3 separate regions of the Homo sapiens genome follow, and all the other regions are linked to region 1. The links come from fine-mapping of genetic effects on gene expression. A gene starts in region 1. Each other region holds a variant in brackets. All regions are shown on one strand. Distances are from middle to middle.

Region 1 (6,956 bases):
GGAGGGGCCCTGCTAATGGCCTGGCACCTCCTTGGGCCCCTCTGTGTGTTCTCTCTCACTCCTCCCTCTTTCTCTCACCTACACAATGCCTATGGAGGGCAGGGGTGGGGGTGGGGGGTTCTTCTCCCAGATTCCCAAGCAAGGGAGAAGCGTGTGTGTGTGTGTGTGTGTGTGTGTGTGAGTGAGAGAGAGAGAGAGAGAGAGTGTGTGTGTGTGTGTGTGTGTGTGTGTGTGGTGTGCCTCTTTGCTACAGGACTGGTGCCCCACTTGCCAGCTCCTAGCTCAGATGCTCTCTGTGCAGAGAGTGGGGTGTGTGTGCATGCACCAATGTGTCTGTGTAGGAGGGTGAGGAGTTCTCTTAGGGGATTTATACTTTACATACAGAGCCCTGATTCAGTGCTAAGAGAATTCCTTTCTGGGTGGTGACCCACCAAACATATTTGCCTGGACTCTGAAAGTCAGCTCAATGTTAGCTTATAGACTGAGAAAAACAAAAACAAACCCCTTTTCTCCCTGAGGTTTATACTTAGCCAGATAATGAGGTTTAAACGTGCACTTCTTGCCTGGAGGAAGGAGAAAAGAAGTGGGTGTCAGAAAAGCACTGCCAGGCTGAGCCTCAGCTGGGAGTGGGAGCCAAAGGAAGGGTGGTTGAGCCCTCCAGGCTGCAGGGGCAGGGGAGCTAGGAGAAAAGAGGAAGCTGGTGCAGGAAGACTGGCTCCTGAGAAAGAGAGGAGATGGAAAAGGAATCCTGGCCTGAGACCGAGCTTACCTGGGTTCTGATCTGGCTCTGTTGCTAGATGTGCCACTAGCTTCTGGATCTTCCTGTGTCCATCTGCAAAAGGCAGGTAGGTAGACTGTATGGGCCCTCCCAGCTCTGATATCCAATGCGGGTTTAAATAGCCTTTCCAGAGCATTGCTAATGGCCAGGTGTTGGATTTTTGCCTTCATTATCTGTTTTCTCCTTAATTATCTTACAGCTCCTTGGACCCAAGAGTCTTCCATTGTGGAATCAATTCGCAAGGGGTAAATAATGTCTGCTGTTGCCTGGAAAGGCCTTGGTTGCCTCTGGTAGGAAGGGGGAGATGGGTCAGGAAAAGGAGGGAATCAACCAGGGAAAAGGAGTTGACCAAATGATGTGCCTGTCCCACAAAACACTTCAGCTTGCTTTCCCGGAGTCCCACTGCCTGGCCAAATGTGGAATAGATAAACACACAGATACAACAAACCACTTGAGAACAGAATGACCCTTGCTTCTCCCCTTCTCCTTCCTTGTTAAGCCTAGGTTCTAGGATTGTTCCCTTTATACAAGCTCCTTTCTCTCCGGGAAGGGCGGGGGTAGTTTATAAACTTAGGCACTAGGGCCACCTGTAGCTGGTGATCTGTGCATTATTTTCTTGAGCTTTCTCCCTTTCTCCTTCTTCTTCTTCTAAGAGCCTTGGACCAGGCATCAGAAGCCCCCTTACCCTCTAATTCTTGCTTGGCGTTTAGCAAAATACTTTCCTTCTGGAGACTCAAATTTTCCTTCTCCATAGAGAAGGGCAAACTTGAGATGAGCTCTGAGGCAGAGGGACAGCCCTGTGGATGGCCTCCCACCCTGTATTGCAATTGCATCATTAGATGGAAGCAGTCTGATGCAGTGGGAGCACAATTAAGCTCCCTTTCCTAGCAAAGGAGGCATTTGTTTCTATGTATTTCCAAAGGTTAAAAGCACATAGTTCCTAGAGCAATAAGATTTATTCATTCAGTCATTCATTCAACAAACATGTATTATGTCAATATTTAACTGAAGTAAAGACGTGAGAGCCGAACAAGACCTTAGAAGTCAGGTTCATTTTACAGATGAGGTCATTTCTTAACCAGGGAAAGTGCTGACTTACTCAAGAAACTACAAATAGAAACAAAACCCAGGGATTATGAGTCCCAGTCCATCATCTTTCCAAAAAGCACACTACTGCTTAATATGAATTAAAAATCTACTTAAACGTAAATAGCAGTGGTAGTGTTTTACTTAAAGGTATCCTTTTTATTAAAAAAAAATGTATTTGAAAGTGAAACATCAAATACTAGTTTCGGTTCTCAGATACAGTAATTTCCTTCAAGACATTGATGACGCTTTCAATATTCCTTGAGGACAGATTATTTTTGCGAAGAATTTCAGAGACAGGAGAGAGATTCAGAGAGAAAGGTGGAGGTGGTTGGGGGCTCATGAGATTCTTGAGACCTACAGAATCAAGGAAATTCATGGGTAATCTAACTGTGGGAAGCGACACTCGGACCCTAAGGAGGTCTTCGTTCCTGCCTGTCCTTGAGAGTCCACAGCTGCTTTCCAAAACGTAGTTACTAGGAACAAATCAGCCTGAAACGCGATAACCACTTTAAGTAAGTTTCATTTGGCCCCGTGTCTTCTGAAGAACTGCCGCAGCACTCCGCTAGGGAGAGCGGGCTTTTAAGGCTGTGGAAAGGTTCAGGGTGAACTGGGACCCCAAGGGAGGGAAAGGCGGTCATTAAAATAAGGAAAACGCTCCCTCTCCTTGCTGAGGCAAGGGAGGCTTAAAGACGAACTCCGTCGCCTGTCTCACTCGCATCTAACCGAGTAGAGCCTGGCTCAGGTCTCCAAGCCTTCCACAGGACACGGTGGGTGCCGGCGGGCTTACAGCCCACCTCCGTCCCGGCCGCCCATCAGGCCACGAGGGGGCTAAGAGGAGTCCGGGGAACCAGAGAGGGGGCACTGCTTGCCCGCAGCCTCTTCTTCTAAACACCCGCCGCCCGCAAGCCGGGTCGAATCCCATTTCCGAAGGGCGCTTCCGGGAGACCAGGTGTCTCCGAGCGTCCCCGATCGCCGGTAACTGGGCACCGGCCGCCAGCGCAGCCCTACCTTCCCTGCCCCTACCTGCTAGACGCCTGGTGCGGTGCCCGGCATGCGGACCTACAGCCGCGACGGCCACTCGGGCTGCCCTCGCCATGGGACTTGGGCACTGCAGGCCGACCGGAGGCTTCTAGCTCGCGCCGGGTGCGTGGGCCCTCCCTGGCCGCCTGTGCCACCCCGCTGCGCGAGGCGCGGAGCCCGACCACGCCCGCGCGGACGGTCCCGGGGTGAGGAATCTCCAGTGGGGATTGAGGGTAGAGGGCGGCCGCCAGCGAGCTGCCCTCCGCGGATGGCGCCCAGCCTCCCCACGCTGGTGCCCCTCGCAAGGAGAGGTGGCCGGGAAAGGCAACGGACTGAGGAAAGCCGGCTCACTGGCCGCGTCGCCACCGCGTCCCTGAGTGCTCAGAACTTACCGAGCGAGCGCGCCGCCCAGATCTTTTCCCGGAGGCGCCCGCAGCATCTGCGACTCGGGGAGGCAAAGGAGCCGGCACCGCCTCGGACTGGCGCAGCCCAGGAGCGAGAGCACCGCGGGGAGCGCGGGCGGCGCCCCCAGGGCAGGCAGATCCCCACCGAGCAGCTAGCCAACGGGCAACGCTTCTTGCAGGAAGGAGGGAGGGAGGCGAGAGGGAGGAGGGAAGTAAAGCGGGAGGGAGGAGAGGGGAAGAAGGGAGGGAGGAGGGAGGAGGGAGGGAGGAGGGAGGAGGGAGTGAGGAGGGAGGAGGGAGGGAGGAGGGAGGGAGGGATCGCGTCCCCCCTCTCCCTCACTTATCAATCACCCCACAGATCAAATATCCGGGCTGTGCACCCAGGACGGGGATGTAAGAGCCCACAAAGGAGCCGCTGCTCCATTTCTCTGACAAGCGCTGCGGAGCACTGCTCACGCCTCTCGGTCCCTCTTGCCTGGAACTCTGCCCAGCCCTTGCGGCTTCCACCCTGGGCTGCAGCTCGGGCTCGGTCAAGTGAAATAAGAATGGCACACGGTCGGTACCATGTCCAAGGGGAGACTAAGACTACTGGGTGGAAGTTAACGACAAGTGAAAGAGCAGTCAGCCATCCGAGCTGGACACCCTCCGGGACAGCTGCCTCCCCTAACTAGTAAGCGCCCAGTCTTTGGGAGTTCGCAGGCAGATATTTAAGAACCTCCTACGAGGATCGTAAACAAGGACTTTCAACATAAGATAGAGCTGAACTTGAGTTGTGCAAGTGTGTTAACAAAGCAAGCCCTTAGCAGCGTTCCAGTGCCCATTTTGATTCCCTTTATTCTTCACGACGACGTTGCCTGGATCTTCTAGAGCGTGATTTTTGCCATCCTCCCTTCCCTTTTCTCCTTTCTTCTTCCTCTTATTAGTAGTCCAGGTGGTTGTGATTCTATTAAAGGAAGGCGCTCTGTGAAAAGAGTCAGTGTAGTTCAAGAGGGAGGTGCGGTTTTTGCCAAGAGCATTGCGTTTCCCCTCAAGACTTGCTTTCTCTAGGGCCTCTCCTCTACTCTTCCAGAGTATTCGAGATAAAGTTGCAGTTTGATAAATTTATGCCAGGAGTAGGGAGTTCATTTGATGACACTAAGTCATTTTCCCCTCCATCCTGTAGGAGAACGTCATTAATTCAAGTCGTTGCCACCCCCTATCCTTTTCATGCCCGCTAGAGTCTGCAAAACCCCAAATCCTTCTTACTGTCGAAAAGCGTGATGGTGGAGAGCAGACGGGGAGGCGAGGAGAGAGGTGCAAAATTAGACGCAAAATTACCTCTCCAGCTAGTGGATCTGCATTGGAATTTGTCTGTTTCCATATTTCCCATGCCTTTCAACTCGTTCTCACAGCACTGACAACCACCTTTTTCTTGTCCTTCCCGTGGGAATCTTTTGTGCTTCTCCTGTCCTCTCTTCTTGGCTTTCTTTCATAATGGTTTTCTAAGGAGATTATGCTGGGCTTTTTAAAAAGAAAACTACTGGCAATCTTATATTATGAAGATGTACAGAGTTTGCTTTAATAATAGTCGGAAGAATTATAATCGTATCTTCGGAGTTGTAAGGGTCATTACTGTTCCTTTTATTTCATTCTTGAGAAAGCCTTTTTGAAATCTTCCTACCATTCAGATAAGCAACTTCGGAATAACATAGTTCTCACATAAGCACGTGGGCAGTGTATGTACGGTTATATATCCAGAAGCATTGCTCTTCTTTTTACAATATCTGTATTAGTGTAAACATCCAATGTGCTGTTTGCTACAGACTAAAAGCAGTGCACTGAGCACATCATATTATTAACTAAATGAGGTCAGTTAATACTGTTACTTCTGTCTTTACCGTATTTCTGACTGTGTCATCTTTTCATGTCGCTTTTAGTAGATGTTATAAACAACTGCAAAACACAGAGCTAAGAGGCCATTCCAATACAGAAATAATGAGACAGTCATGCTGAAAAACTCAGACAGTTTACTAAGAAGGGTGATGTGTCTGTAGCCAAAGGGAACATACAAAATAAGCAAAAACTTCTATACAGAGTAGAGAAGGAACATGGCATTAATGATGAAAAGTGATACTTTATTTAGATCCAGTAGTAACATGTAATAGATGGCATGCATCAATTTTAATTAGCCTTGTAAGCAAGTCTAACCTGTTCACCAGCCTTCGAAAAGCATTTAGCAGCCTGCCTTTCCACATGGGACCACACTGATAGTAAGACAAAATTAAAAAGAGCAGACTTTTCTTTTTGTCAGCATAAAATTTTCAAGTAGGTGGATAGCTGTGCTTTGAATGCACAGACACGAAAATTGATGAGCAATATAAAACTTTCTGAGAGGGTTTTGCATAGACAGTTATAATGGAGGAGAGTTTGAAGTCTGTGAAAAATTTAAATATGCCAATTTATTTGAAAGCTGCTTTATGCTGAATTTTCTAAAAGCTTCTGTGTTAGAGGAAAATTTCCAAATAGAATTGAATACTAGAGACACCATATTAATGTACTTCTGTTCATTAATAAAAATCACATTATTCTTCTTTATACTAGCACTGTAAATGTATCTTTATATCCATGTGCTGTTTTCTTTTTGAAAAACTTTTATTTTAGGTTCAGGTGTACGTGTGCAAGTTTGTTATATAGGTAAATTGCATGTGGTGGGGGTTTGGTTTACTGTAAGCTACTTTCTATTGTGAAGTTCGTGTTACTAAACAACATAGAGATCCCGATTGGAAAACTAGTGGAAAAACAGAGAAATAAAACTAAATCTTGCCTGGGTTTTTATAATTTCATTCTAAGGTTAGAAGAAAACCAGAAATTTCACCTGCGATGAGTGAGATAAAAAGCGCATATGTTTCCAGGATGATGTAAAGGATGTCCTATTACTGTGTAGTACGTAATTTACCTGAGAATGTTGCTTTTTCAACTTCTTCACACCTATCCAGAACTAGAAAGCTTTAAAACATATAAAAGAAGACAAAATGTGCTGCATTTTCAGTGAACATAGTTTCTTTCCAACCAAAGGTTTCAAAGAAGAGTGCCACAGAACAAATTCCTAAATAAAGAAACGCAACAAAGCGGACATGCCCTTAATATTAGTAATTATAGTTTACAGGATATTGTAGACTTTTGTTCCTGATGTTATTGAAAAGGTGGATATTTTTCAATTCAATTCAATTATTTGGATTATTTGGCAGGCATTTTGGCCTGATTGAAATAGTGCTGGGCCAAGACCCAGGGCAGTTTTTCTTTTAATCAAATACATATCCAAGCCCTTGGAGCCCAATGACCTGGGTTCAAATTCCACCCGTGCTACTTTCTCACAATGGGACAAAAACAGCATTACACCAATTTCAGTTCCCCATGTGTAAAACTGGCACCTGCTATGTGGAGTCAGTAAGGATGGGATGTATACAGAACTCTTGAAAATTGAACGGTGGTACATGTATGTGCAAATAAATCTTAAACTAAAAAAATTTTTAACTCACTTCTTAAAATAAATAAGTTATACAAAATATTTTATATCTGTTTTCTATGTTTCTCATGACAATCCTCAACAGGCCAGTATGATTAGCCAGACTTTACAAAAGAGGAAAGTGAGACTCAGAAAATTTAAGTAACTTACCCTTACTCCC
Region 2 (6,956 bases), 82 kb after region 1:
ACATGGGGATTATGGGGATTGCAATTCAAGATGAGATTTGGGTGGAGACACAAAGCCTAACCATATCAAAGGGGCACCGCGTCCCCATTTCTCTCTATTAGTTATAACACTCAGATATATTCATGAAGTCATGCAGACTTACAGCCTTGCATATCACTTCAGAAACATACGTCCACAGTCTTAGGAAAGGAATTAAGAAGAACTAACATTTGCTGAGGCCTTGCATCTACCTAATACTCTACTGGGATCCTTCATATACATCAGATACACACATCAACCCTAGAAGGTAGGTATTACTATGATCCCCATTTTTCTTGTGGAAAAGCTAATGTAGAGAGAGGTCGCTTAACTTTACTGAGTTAGTAAGTAGCAGAGCTGAGATCTAAATGCAAATGTGAAACCTCCAGAGCATGTGTTTTTCTCACTACACTTTGCTTCCTGTCTTACTATGTTTGCTTGAAAGGAAATATTTTTAACTAAGGGCAAAATGGCAAGCATTTAGTTGAACTACCGCTGGTGAGTTTTAAAGAGGATTTCTACATACGGTATTACAATTTTACTGAATTTCTTGGTTAGCATGTTTAATATTCAGCTCCACAGACCTGAGGTATGCTTGTGGATTAATTATTTTTATGCAGGGGTGAATATTTTTAGAATCGAACTGTTATAATAGCTAAATTCAGGCATGTCCATATGCACTCACGTGCACACACACACAGAGAACAGATTAAGGGACCTAATTTTATTGAAGGAAGCATCAATATTTATGCTTGATAAAGTATATAGATAGAAATTTTCAATTAAGAAGGCAAAATAAAATAGTAAAACTAAAACTGAATCTAAACTAGTTTGAATGTTTAAGAATCAATGGAGTTAATAATATAGTTAACTGAAGATTGGGGATAAAAATCCTCTCTGCTTCACTTGGATGGGAAAACCTCTCAGCCCCCTTTTTCTACCTTGTGGAGCTGCATATTGATGATGGCATTATTGTGCCAATCAGGTTTTGGTTTGTGTCCTTAAGGCACACATACATGTAACTTGTTCAAAGCAAATCACAATGAGAAAAGCACAATTTGGTAACATTGGTTTGACCATTCTTTCCACTGTTGATGTTTCTGTCTCTTAATGCCTTGAGTCTTTATTTTTTTCTGATTCCTGATTTTGGCTTCTGCTTAAGGTTTAGCCTTCAAAATAACCTAGAATATAAGCCTAGAATCTTTCCACAGTGCCTAGCTCCCTTTAAACTGATTGGCTCATTCCACACAAAATCCTACTATTAGTCTGTTTAAAAGCTACCACTATCCAAAGTTCATTTCTGGATAAACAACAGTCCAAAACAGGAGTCCAAGCCACTTATCCATATCTTATCTCATTACTCTTCCTTATCGTTTTTTTGTAGACCTTCTCATCTTGATTCCAGTCATTACCCACTGCTTTCTACCTTGTATTGGGGATAAGCAATCTAATACTGTATTTTGCTATAAATTGACAAATTATAACTGTATATATTTATGGGATAAAATGTGATGTCATGATATATGTATACAATGTGGAATGATTAAATCAAGTATATTAACATATTCATCACCTCAAATATTTATCTTTTTTGTGGAGAGAACATTTGAAGTTTACTCCCTTAGCAATTTTCAAGAATACATTATTGTTACCTACAGTCATCATTCTGTGCCATAAATCTCAAAAAATGTATTCCTCCTGTCTAACTGAAATGTTATACTCTTTGACCAACACCATTACCCACACCCCCAGCATCTGGTAACTACCAGTGTATTCTTTGTTTCCATAAGTTCAATTGTTTTGGATTCCACGTGTAAGTGAAATCCTACAATATTTGTTTTTCTGTGCCTGGATTATTTTACTTAGCATAATGTCCTCCAGGTTCATCAATGTTTTCAGAAATGACAAAATTTCTTCTGATTTTAAAAAGGTGAATTGTATTCCATTGTGTATATATACCACATATTCTTTGTCCATTCATCTGTTGATGGACACCTAGGTTGATTCCATACCTTGGATATAGTGAATAGTGCTGCAATAAACATGGTAGTGCAGATATTTCTTTGAAATATTGATTCCAAATCCTTTGGCTATATAACCAGGAGAGGGATTGATGGCTCATATGGTAGTTTTACTTTTTGTTTTTTGATGAACCTCCATACCATTTTCCACAATGGCTGTACTAATTTACATTCCCACCAACAGTGTACAAGAGTTCCCTTTTCTCTGCATCCTCACCAGCACTAATATTTTGTCTTTTTCTATAATAGCCATTCTGACTAATATGAGGTAATATCTCATTGTGTTTTTAATTGGCTTGTCCCAATGTTTAGTGGTGCTGAGCATTTTTTCATGTATTTGCTGGCCATTTGTATGTCTTACTTTGAGAAATGTCCATTTAAGCTCTTAGGTCATTTTTAAGTCAGTTTGTTCTCTTGCTATTGAATTGTCTGAGTTCCTTAGGTATTTTAGATATTAACTCTTTATCAGATATTAACTCTTTATCCGATATTATAATATGATAATATCAGATCACATTAACATCTGATAAAGAGTTACTATAATTTTCATTGCCTACTTCTGTAGATGTAGAGGACACAGAATAACAATTACATTTTTATTTCTCAATACATCCATGTGTAGCTTCATTTTTTCTTCCTCTTGTCTAAATAAGCAATCCAATTTGGGTTCTTGTACCTGATGATATCAAGCACTGTTTTATTTTATTTTTTCCTGTTTTTTTCAAAATTTTATATTAGGTTCAGGGGTACACATGCATGTTTATTTTATAGGTACACTGCATGTTGCAGGGGTTTGGTGTGCATATTGTTTTATCACCCAAGTAATAAGCATAGTACCCAATAGGTAGTTTTTTGATCCTCACCCTCCTCCCACCCTCTGTCCTCAAGTAGGTCCTGTTGTTTGTTGTTCCCTTCCTTGTGTCCATGTGTACTCAATGTTCAGCCCCCACTTATAAGTGAGATCACTCAGTATTTTGTTTTCTGTTCCTGTGTTAATTTGCTTTGGATAATGGCCTCCAGTTCCATCTGTGTTGATGCAAAGGACATGATCTCATTATTTTTCATAGCTGCATAGTATTCCATGGTGTACATATATGTACCTCATTTTCATCATTCAGTCTACCATTGATGGGCATTTAGGTTGAGTCCATATCTTTGCTATTGTGAATAGAAGCACTGTTTTCGAGCATAAATTTAAGTATCTGCCTGTAGCTTGACTCAAGGAAATTCTGGGCAAGAGGTACCTCATACCACGTTTAAAGCCTGTTGGACTTACCAACCTAGCTTATCTTTTGCCAAGCTCCCATCTAGGATCAATTTGGGTGCCCTGTCTGACTGCATCACTTGGATCATGGACTGTATGTACTACTTTCTTCTTAACTAAATAGATGACTTTGTGAATGTCATGCTTTGCAGGCACTCAGGGTACTCTTATTTACATAATTTTCATTGCTTACCCTATAGATATAGAAAATACAGATTAGTAATTACATTTTTGTTTCTCAATATATCCATATGAAGCTGCTTTTAAAGAATAAATACTTCATATTTATTTACTTTCTCCTAAAAGCAAAAGATTAGAAAATTCTGGGAATCCAAGGATGTGACTCAGTCAGCTACAGTAATGTGGCCAGTACTGCACGTTCCCAATGGGTTCCAATGCAGTTACTCAGA[T/C]ACTAGGAGAAGGATGAGGTAAAATTAGTTGAATAAACATTATACAAGAAATGTATTATAATTGGTGTTAGCATTTTCTTTTCAGGCTAAAGGAAGTACCTAAAATTTTTCTGAAGTAAGATTTTGCTTTTCTTTTTTTTTTTTTTTAATGTTAACTCTTAAATGTAAGCTGGAAACATATAGAATTGAAAACCCATTAGAAATTATTACATCCTTGGCTATTTTATTATTAATCAGTAAGAGGATTAAAAAGGTTTACCATCTATTACCTGACTAGACAACCGATGGGAAAATAAAATTGCATCCAAATGTAATGTTGAATAATTGGCATGTGTAGGCTGCTGGGGACTTTACTCACATGCTCTGTGATTATACCTTCATTATATCCCACTGAAGATATGGCTCGCTGGTGTGCTGTGATTCAAAGGATAAATCTCAGTGTAGTAGCAGTATTACACAAATAAGGTGGAATGTCACAAGTGAAATTAGGCCAATCGAACCCATATAATTCTGAGACTAGTTAAATTTGTTCATACCGGATTGCTTGGTTAGTGTAAACTATATTTACCTGTTCATCTGATTATGATTTTACCTTGTGTTTAGTCTTATCCAAATGAGTGGAAGTTAGGCTATGGACAAAAAGATACTGACCTTATTATTTTAGTGATTGCTAGCACTAGTTTTAGGGGCTTGTCCATTGACCAGGCTATAAGTTTTATCCCTGCTCCCTGATCAGAAATTGCATCCATTGGCCAGGTGTGGTGGCTCACGCCTGTAATCCCAGCACTTTGGGAGGCCGATGTGGGTGGATCACCTGAGGTCAGGAGTTGGAGACCAGCCTGGCCAACGTGGTGAAACCCCATCTGTACTAAAAATACAAAAATTAGCCAGGCATGGTGACACATGCCTGTAATAGCAGCTACTCGGGAGGCTGAGGCAGGAGAATCACTTGAACCTGAGAGGCTGAGGATGCAGTGAGCTGAGATTGCACCATTGCACTCCAGCCTGGGCAACAAGAGCGAGACACTGTCTCAATTAAAAAAAAAAATGTGTCCACTGAAGCTAATGTGGTATAGAGTATCCTCCTCTAGCTGGGCCATCCTTCCTGTTGCTCTTCACTGGCTCACTGCTACTCATCATTTTTGTTTTGTTTTGTTTTGTTTTGTTTTTTCTTTGAGACAGAGTCTCACTCTGTCACCCATGCTGGAGTGCAGTGGCGCAATCTCGGCTCACTGCAAGCTCTGCCTCCTGGGTTCACGCCATTCTCCTGCCTCAGCCTCTCGAGTAGCTGGGACTACAGGCGTCCGCCACCACGCCTGGCTAATTTTTTGTATTTTTAGTAGAGACGGGTTTTCACCATGTTAGACGGGATGGTCTCGATCTCCCGACCTTGTGATCCACCCGCCTCGGCCTCCCAAAGTGCTGGGATTACAGGCGTGAGCCACTGCGCCCAGCCACTGCTACTCATCTTTTAGGCCTAGAAAAAGCCTTTCTTTTCTGCTCTTTCCATGCTGCACCCCTCTGAGGTCCAGGTTAGATGACTCCAAAGGAATGTATGACAGCCAACAGTAGCATAGCAAGATTACCTTAGTCCCTTTCGGTCCCACAGATGTGCTCTAACTGATGGACCCAGATGTCCATAGGTGAGTCTTATCAAGAATAACGAAGCGCTCACCAACTTTTAAACCTCTTTTTATACACTCTTGTTTGTTTGGTTTTAGAAAGTGAAATGTTGCAGTTATTTATCTTAAACAATTAATATTCAATTTATAACTATTCATCTGTACATACTACATTTAAATAACTGGCTTAAACCCTTGGGCAGCTGCTCACATGAATATATGGTTCAGGTTTCCCTTTCACGTAAATCACCCTATATTGTGTTTTACACTGTATTAGTCTGTTTGCATCACTGTAAAGGAATACCTGAGGCTATGCAATTTATAAAGAAAAGTTTAATTGGCTCATGTTTCTGCAGGTTGTACAGGAAGTACAGTGCCAGCATTTGCTTCTGGTAAGGGCCTCAGGAAGCTTACAATCATGACAGCAGGTACATCATATGCTGAGAGCAGGAGCAAGAGAGAGAGAGGAGAGGTGCCACACACGTTTAAACAACGAGATCTCAAATAAATCAACTGGGTGAGAACTCACACATCACCCAGGGGAAGGTGCCAAACCATTAATTAAGGATCTACCCCCATGATCCAATCAACTTCCACCAGGCCCCACCTCCAACATAAGGAATTACATTTCAACATGAGATTTGGCGAGGATGAATATCCAAACCGTATCATACACAAAGTCACACACCCGTGTGCTTACTTGTTTATCATTTATACCCGCCTTTGTTCAGCATGTAAACTTCTTGAGGGCAGCCAAAGTGTTTCATTCGTCTCTAAGTCACTAAATGACTAAAATGAGGTTTGACATATAGTAGACGTTCAGTGTTGTGAGCTGATTGAATGCAAAATAGCTAGCATTTCTTGGATGGTTTTTGTATGTAACATCATGCTAGGCACTATCCCATGCAGTTATGAGGTACTTTCTATAATTATTCACATTTTACAGATTAGGACACCGTGAACTATAGAGTTCAAAATGTCTAAGTTCACAGAGCAAGTAGGTAGCTCAGTGGGGATATGACCTATTCATAGAATGATCTAATCTCAAAGCCCTTGACCTTAAATATTATGAACAATGCCTCTGATATTTGAATTTCTCCTTCCAAGGAAAATGGAGACCTGGGACACTATAGCAAAGATTGGGCCTGTTGCCTCAGGAATCTTGGATAGGCTATCATTTTTCCCGAGGCTACAGCGTAAGAAACCATGGAGATGCTATCAAAGAAACATTACCCTGTGGACAAATGATGATGGAGATTGGCAGATTGTCCCACTCAGCCATCAGACTGAAGGGGGTAGGCACAGGGTGACTCCAAACACAAGACCATGCCAAGGGAACTGGTGAAGAGCAAGAAGGGTCCAAACAGAGGGTTGAAGCCAGAGTATTGAGGGATCGTTGAACTAGGAAGAGTGGCCGTGGCAGGGTGTGTATTTGTAAAGATGCCAATCAGCTTAGACAGCTGAACAAGCCTCCATCCATCCAGACTCCTTTACTACAAACCATCTCTTGATCAGCCACTGAAGATACAGAGCTACATAAGCCATAGATCCTGGAGCAATGGAGAAGGAGATTCTACATATTTGCACAAACTTTGGTGCACAGTGGATGGTCACACTACCC
Region 3 (6,956 bases), 420 kb after region 1:
CTCTCCATTCTTACGGACTGGCTTTGACAGAGAAAGGCCTTTACCAGTTAGCTTGGCTAGAGATTCTGGTAGCTTCTCAAACCTTTTCTACAGATGTCTTCTTTGGATTTTTGTCTGTAGATTTCTACTAAAAGGGATTTATTGGTTGATTTTCTTTCAGAAGCCTGAAATCTTTTGGGCTCTTTGCTGTCTTACTGCTATACCATAGGTTGAGATACCGGAAGCATACTCCATTTCTCCTTCTTTCTGGGAGAGTTGCCACAGATTCTGCACCTTGTCTCAATCTTGCAGAGCTGTACCAGCTTCAGCAAGCTGTCTGACACTCTTCTTTGTTCTTAAGTGCCCCAAGACATAGGAACTATGCCAGCTCTGCCAGTGCTCCGGATGAGGAAAGACAGGAAAAGACAGAAACTGGTTCTTCAGGCAGTTCACCCAAAAATCCGGAAACATTAGACATAATCTCATTCCACCTAAGAAGAAAGTTGTAAGCCAAGGTGCTCGCTCATGGTACTGAGCTGTGCAATATTGGGGGAATTACTAAGGTTGGTACATTGAAGTTGCTCTTCTTATCCATTTCAGTATTGGCTGTTCTCAGTGTTGTGCTCATCTGAGGTACTACAACCTCTTAACTGGATTCTGGACCTCTCATAAAGGTAGTTTGGTTCGTGTATCATAACTAAATTGGTGTTTTGTGGGTGGAAGAAAACTGGGACTTCCTATTCATCTTGCTGATGTCACTTTGGATGTTTAATTTTCTAAGATCCATTCCTTTTGCATTAAAGTCAATAGTGACTTTCTTCAGTTTCTACTTACAACTAGCAAACACAAGCATGTATATTTGTGATGCAGAAACAAAGGTCCAAATAGTGGAGAATGTAGACTGAAGAGTGTTTCCAAAGGTTGGAGCTCTGTTCAGTGTCATTATTTCAAATAACGAGAAGTTATATTTCTTTATTTTCCACTGATGTTGACCTTAATTTATGATCCATGTTAAATTAATTCGACAAATTAATTTATAAAAATTTATTGAGAACCTATACTATTCCACACACTGTTTTAGGCACCGGGAATGCAGCAATGAACAATATAGACAAAAAATCCCTGCTCTCATGGAGGTTGTATTCTATATGATGGGGTTGACCTGGGTAACTTTGTTATTGTTTCATTATTGCATATGTAAGTAAAGCAAGACTAAATAAAGTTGTAGTAACAAACAACTTACAAATCTCAGTGACAATACTGTGCTGTGTGTATTTCTTTGTATATTTCCTTTTTCACTCTATTTCTATTCTGCTTTAAAATATGACTTTTCTCATCTCATCATGGCTATCCTGAGACCCAGGATCATAGGAGCTTCATCTCAACACATGCTTCCATGACTCCATAGTTGTGGAGAAAAAAATAATCTTAAAGATTCTGACTGAAAATGGGACACCATCACTACTCACTAGCATGTCATTGGCCAAAGCATATAACATAGCTTTTCCTGAGTTCAACAAGGCTGGATATAATCCTTTTGCAAGTGAGGAAGCAAATTTTTGTAAATGATAATGTATTATAGTAAATTCCTTACACACTTCTTAAATATGTATTATGTCTCTTTTAATGCCAGGACTGTGTTTAATGCTGGGATTAAAACAGTAAAGAAGACCTTTTTGCCAGTTAATGAGCTAGGCTTAGGTGGTTAAAAGAGTGAACAAGACTTTTTACAAGTAAAATTACACAATCTAGCCATTGAGACAGAGTTTAAGATAAAGTAATTGTACAAATATCTAACCAAGAATAAATAGTATACCAGCTTCCAAATTCCATTAATGGCAGAATAGATTATATTAGACAAGCTGTCTGTCAGATAAAGTAATAAACTCTATATGAAATATTTAAAAGATAACTAGTTGAAGGCACTGAAGAGTGACCAAAAGTAAGTAGAAACTGAACAGGAATCAATGATTGAATGTCACTGTGTGACACTACTATTTATTTGGCTCTTTGCATGTTGACAGTTTATGCAGCATTGTGTGACTAGAAATTTGACATAAACATGCAGACATATAAGGTTGAAAACTCAAAGCGGGAGTTCAGTGCTTCTGGAGTGACAGGAAGAGTGGAAGTTGCAGTACCAGGGAAGCCATAGAGGGGATGGCCATACAATTTGTGTATGAGCTCCACGCAAATCTGTATGTAAGATCTATATGAATCCTTAGAACTATACATGGGGATACTGCAAGAAGTACAATATAAAGTAATAGCAGGAAATCGAAGGAAGTTGATTGACAATTTCAGATGCTGCCCACCACAAGAGAGACAGAATTTGGAATCTGATTATAAACAAGTTAACTGCCTGATATATCCCCTACCAAAAAAAAAAACAAAACAAAACACTTTTCAAAAGGAGATGGCAGGACATAGAGTCTCTAAAAAATGTCATTTACATTACTCAGTACCTAATCAGATGTTGGTAGACATGTGAAGAAATGAGATTTTTATCTTTAGTCAAGAAAACAAATTGAAAACACTGTCAATGGGGTGTAATTTAGAGTTTACCTAGATGCCGGAATAACAGGTAAGCACTTTTAAACGACAACTATAAATGTGTTCAAAAACATAAAATATATTCACAATAAGTTAACTTATGGGAAATCTTAGCAGATGAATTAAAATAATAAAAACTTGGAAATCCTAGAAATGAAAATATACTATACTAGAAGTAATAAATTCACCAGATAATATTAACAGCTAAATGAAGAGGAAAGAACAAAATGTCAGTGAATTTATACATATACCAATAAAAACCATACAATTGGCCAGGTGCGGTGGCTCACACCTGTAATCCCAGCACTTTAGGACGCCGAGGAGGGTGGATCACCAGAGGTTAGGAGTTCCAGACCAGCCTGGACAACATGGTGAAACCCCATCTCTACTAAAAATACAAAAATTAGCCGGGTGTGGCAGTGGGTGCTTGTAATTCCAGATAATTGGGAGGCTGAGGAAGGAGAATTGCTTGAACCTGGGGGGCAGAGGTTGCAGTGAGCCGAGATCGTGCCATTACACTCCAGCCTGGGCAACAAGAAAAGAAAAAATCATAAAATCCAGAGAAGAGAGAAAACATTAGAAAAAAGAAAGAAGAATCCCAAGTGACCTGTGAGGAAATATTGAATGATGTAACATACACTTATTGTAGTTGAGAAGTAGAAGAAAGAAAAATTGCAGCACAAAATATACATATACGAGGAAAAAAGTCAGAAAATTCAAAAATTGGTGAAAAACATAAATTTACAGATTTAAGAATTTCAACTAATTCCAAGGTAGACAAATTCAAAGCATATCACATTGTGACACATCATAGTCAAACTGCTAAAATGCAATGATAATGAGAACATCTTGACAACCAGAGAAAAATAATCCATTTCACACACAGGAACAATGATATGAATAACAGCTGCCTTCCCTCTCACCTCATCCCCCCCGAAAAAAGAGTCAAAAGTCTATGTGATAACATTTTTAAAGTGAACAAAGAAAGAATTTCAAAAATGATGACAAACAAGTCCAAGATGGCAGATTAGAGGCTTTTAGCATGCCCCTGTGACTTGGGAAATCGCAAGATAGTGCATAAAGGTGAACTCTGTGTGCTTTAATTCAAGAAGAAAAATAGGAATCCACTGGAATCATGAAGAACATCCCAGATCCTGGGGAGGAGAATGTCAGCAAACAGCCCCCCTTATGACATTTGGCTGATAAAAGTGAGTGAACCCCTAATATATGAGAGAAGCAGAGAACCTCCTTCTGTGACTCACCTTTCTACTGGGAATCC[A/G]AGCAACCCCGGTCAAGGGAGAGCATTTTGTTTCTTCCAAACCTTAAAGTTAAAGTGGGGAAAGGCTTGGAGATGTTGTGAGAGAAAGACACCAGAAAATGTTGCAGACGCTGTTCCAGACCAACAATCAAGAGCAGGATGCCGTTTAAATCCAGGCACATATGAAGTCAGCCATTCGTGGCAACTCGGCAGTGTGGCCACACAGGTATTTTAGTCTTCGAAAAGAGATTGGATCACCTGCTTTTGAGTGGGTAGGGGCCTCCACAGCCCAAACTGTGGAAAGCATCTCAGCAGTAGGTACTGGAATTGGTTCTTCCAACCCCCACCAAGTCTGGGGTGGGAAGAGAGCCACTACAGCTGCAGTTTCCCTTGGGTGGTGAGACTTGCAGCTGGAGCCAGCTTGGTGACCTGAAACTGATCTGCATATGCCATTGCTGCTTGCCCCACCCTACTCTCTTGAGATTGTGGTGCAGCAGGGCCCTCTCTGCTCCACCCCCAGGCAGAAATTCAGGCATTTGGAGCACTAGTTCACCTGGTTCAAGACCCTGAGCTGTCTTACCCTTCATTGGCATAGATCATGGTGCAACAGGGCACTCTCTGCTTCACACCCAGGCAGATTTCCAGGCATTCAGAGCAGCACCTCAACTGGATCAGCAGCCTGACCCACCCCATATTTCCTGTGCAAAGATCCTGGTGGAAGGAGGCCCTTTCCACTGCACGCCCAGGCAGGTCTCCAGGCTTCTGGAAGACCCACTCTCTTTAATTAGGAGTTTAGGCCACTCCTGATCCCATGCAGAGAGCATGGGGCTGAGGAGGTTTCCCAGCTCCACACCTAGACACACTTCTGGGTGCTTGGCAGCCACCCACTGGATTGTCCCATGGCACTGGTGCTCGTGCCTGCCTCTGGGAGACCTGTAGGCAGACCTGCCCGGTTCAGACCCACCCATCATGGCCTCTGCCCCCAGGTGCTGAGCAGGAGCTGAGACCACTGTACATTCCACAAATCAGCCCATTGCCTGAGGCAACAGAGAGCTTCAGGCAGTAAATTAGGACCAAGTTTATATCCAGCTATATTGGCTGCAGCCAGCTCTCACTTATAAGCGCCATCTACTGGCTTACGGGTCAAACTGCACATCCCGATACAAAACCTGCTGAAAGAAGTGCATAGGGCTCTAGAAGCAAAGTCAAAAGACCCTACCCAGCACTCTCTACAGCTACACCCCAAAGAGGGGGTGGAGAGGAAAAGGGAAATAAAAAATCTTAACGGTAACTAGAGAAAAAGTTCATATTACTTACAAAGGGAAAGTCATCAGGTTAACAGCATACTTCTCATCAGAAATCTTGCAAGTCTGGAGAGATTGGTGGCCTACTGTTAGCATATCTAGAGAAAAGAGATTCCAATCAATAATTTTATATCCCACCAAAGAAGGCTTCATAAGTGAATGAGAAATGAAAATATTTTCCAGAGAAGCAAGTGCAAAGGGAATCATGTGGAAAGAAAGAAAAAAAAATTAAAAATCTTACCCATACAAGAATGACTAAAAAATTAGAAATGTCAGCAGCATCTCCAAATTATGGGGAACCAGCACGAGAATTCTGGCACTATGAAAAATCTGAAATGTAGTGACACCACCAAAAGATCACACTAGCTCTCCAGCAATGGTCCTTAGCCAAAATGGAAACTCAGAAATGACAGATAAAGAATTCAAAGTATATATTGCCAGGAAGCTCAATGAGATCCAAGACAAGGTTGAAAATTGACACAAAGAAAAGTCTAAAGCAATTCAGGAAATGAAGGAAGAGAAACATCATAAAAACAAATAAATTAGCTTCTGGAATTGAAAATTCACTTAAGGAATTTCAAAATACAATTGAAAGCTTTATCAATAGACTGGGCCAAGCCAAGTAAAGAAATTTAAGAGCTTGAAGACCAGTCTTTCAAATCAGCCCAGTCAGATAAAAATAAAGAAAAAAAATAAAAATAAACAATGTTTTCAAGAAATATGGGATTATGTAAAGCAACCAAACCTATGAATTACTAGCATTCCTGAGACAGACAGAGAAAAAGTAAACAGCCTGGAAAACATATTTGAGGGAATAATTTAAGAAAACTTTTCTAATCTTGTTAGAGAGGTAGACATTTAGATATAAGAAATCCAGACAACACCTGCAAGATACTATACAAAATGAACATCACGAAGGCATATACTCACTAGAATGTTCAAGATCAACCCTAAAGAAGAAAATCTAAAATTCAGCTATAGAGAAAGGTAAGATTACATGAAAAGGGAAACTCAGCAGGCTAAATGCGGACTTCTCAACAGAAACCTTACAAGCCAAGAGTGACTGGGGATCTATTTTCAGCATTCTTAAAGAAAAGAAATGCCAGTCACTAACGTTATACCTTGCCAAATGAAGTTTCATAAGCCAGGGAGATATAAAACATTTTCCAGATAAGCAAGTGTGAAGGGAACTCATTAACACTAGACTAGCTTGACAAGAGATCCTCAAGGGAGTTCTCAACATGGAAAACAAAGAATAATACCTGCTACCACAAAAACACACTTAAGCACATAGCCTGCAGACTTTATAAAACAACCACACAATGGAAACTGCAAAGCAAACAGCTGAAAACTTCATGATGGGATTAAAACCTCATATATCACTATTAACTTTGAATGTAAATGGTCTAAACACCCTCACTTCAAAGACACAGAGTGGCAAGATGGATAAAAGAACTAGACTCATCCATCTGCTGTCTTCAAGAGACCCAACTAAGACATAACTATAATCATAGGCTTACAATAAAGGGTGACAGAAAGATCTACCATGCAAACAGAAAAAATAAAAAACATAGGTCACTATTCTTATTTCAAATAAAACATACTTTAAACCAACAACAGTAAAGAAGGACAAAGAATGGCATCACATAATGATAACATGTTCAATTCAACAAGAAGACTTAGGCATCCTAAATATATATATGCACCCAACATTGGAGCACTCATATTCATAAAACAAGTACTTCTACACCTATGAAAAGACTTAGACACAAAATAATAATTCAACACCAGACTGACAGTGTTGGAGAGATCATCAAGACAGAAAACCAACAAAACAAATTCTGGACTTAAACACAATGCTT

Direction of the effects. Positions count from the first base shown, and alleles are read on the strand shown. Sizes are in standard deviations (SD) of each study's normalised expression. Not every link is listed here.
With allele T in place of C in region 2, the expression in fibroblasts of the gene that starts at base 3,477 in region 1 is lower (small effect, 0.35 SD a copy in GTEx).

What was found. PIP is the estimated chance that this variant, and not a neighbour inherited with it, causes the effect.
Region 2: its variant is fine-mapped to the expression of SLITRK2 in fibroblasts (GTEx, PIP 0.98).
Region 3: its variant is fine-mapped to the expression of SLITRK2 in fibroblasts (GTEx, PIP 0.96).

What each region holds. Positions count from the first base shown.
Region 1 is chrX:145,814,350-145,821,305 of GRCh38, reverse strand. SLITRK2 (SLIT and NTRK like family member 2) reads right to left here and starts at 3,477. Exons shown (of 5, transcript NM_032539.5): 1 at 3,280-3,477; 2 at 770-832.
Region 2 is chrX:145,731,957-145,738,912 of GRCh38, reverse strand. No RefSeq gene overlaps it. Among named protein-coding and RNA genes, the nearest start is that of SLITRK2, 82 kb to the left of the region's middle. The variant T/C (reference allele first, on the strand shown) is at 3,714.
Region 3 is chrX:145,391,830-145,398,785 of GRCh38, reverse strand. No RefSeq gene overlaps it. Among named protein-coding and RNA genes, the nearest start is that of SPANXN1, 150 kb to the right of the region's middle. The variant A/G (reference allele first, on the strand shown) is at 3,812.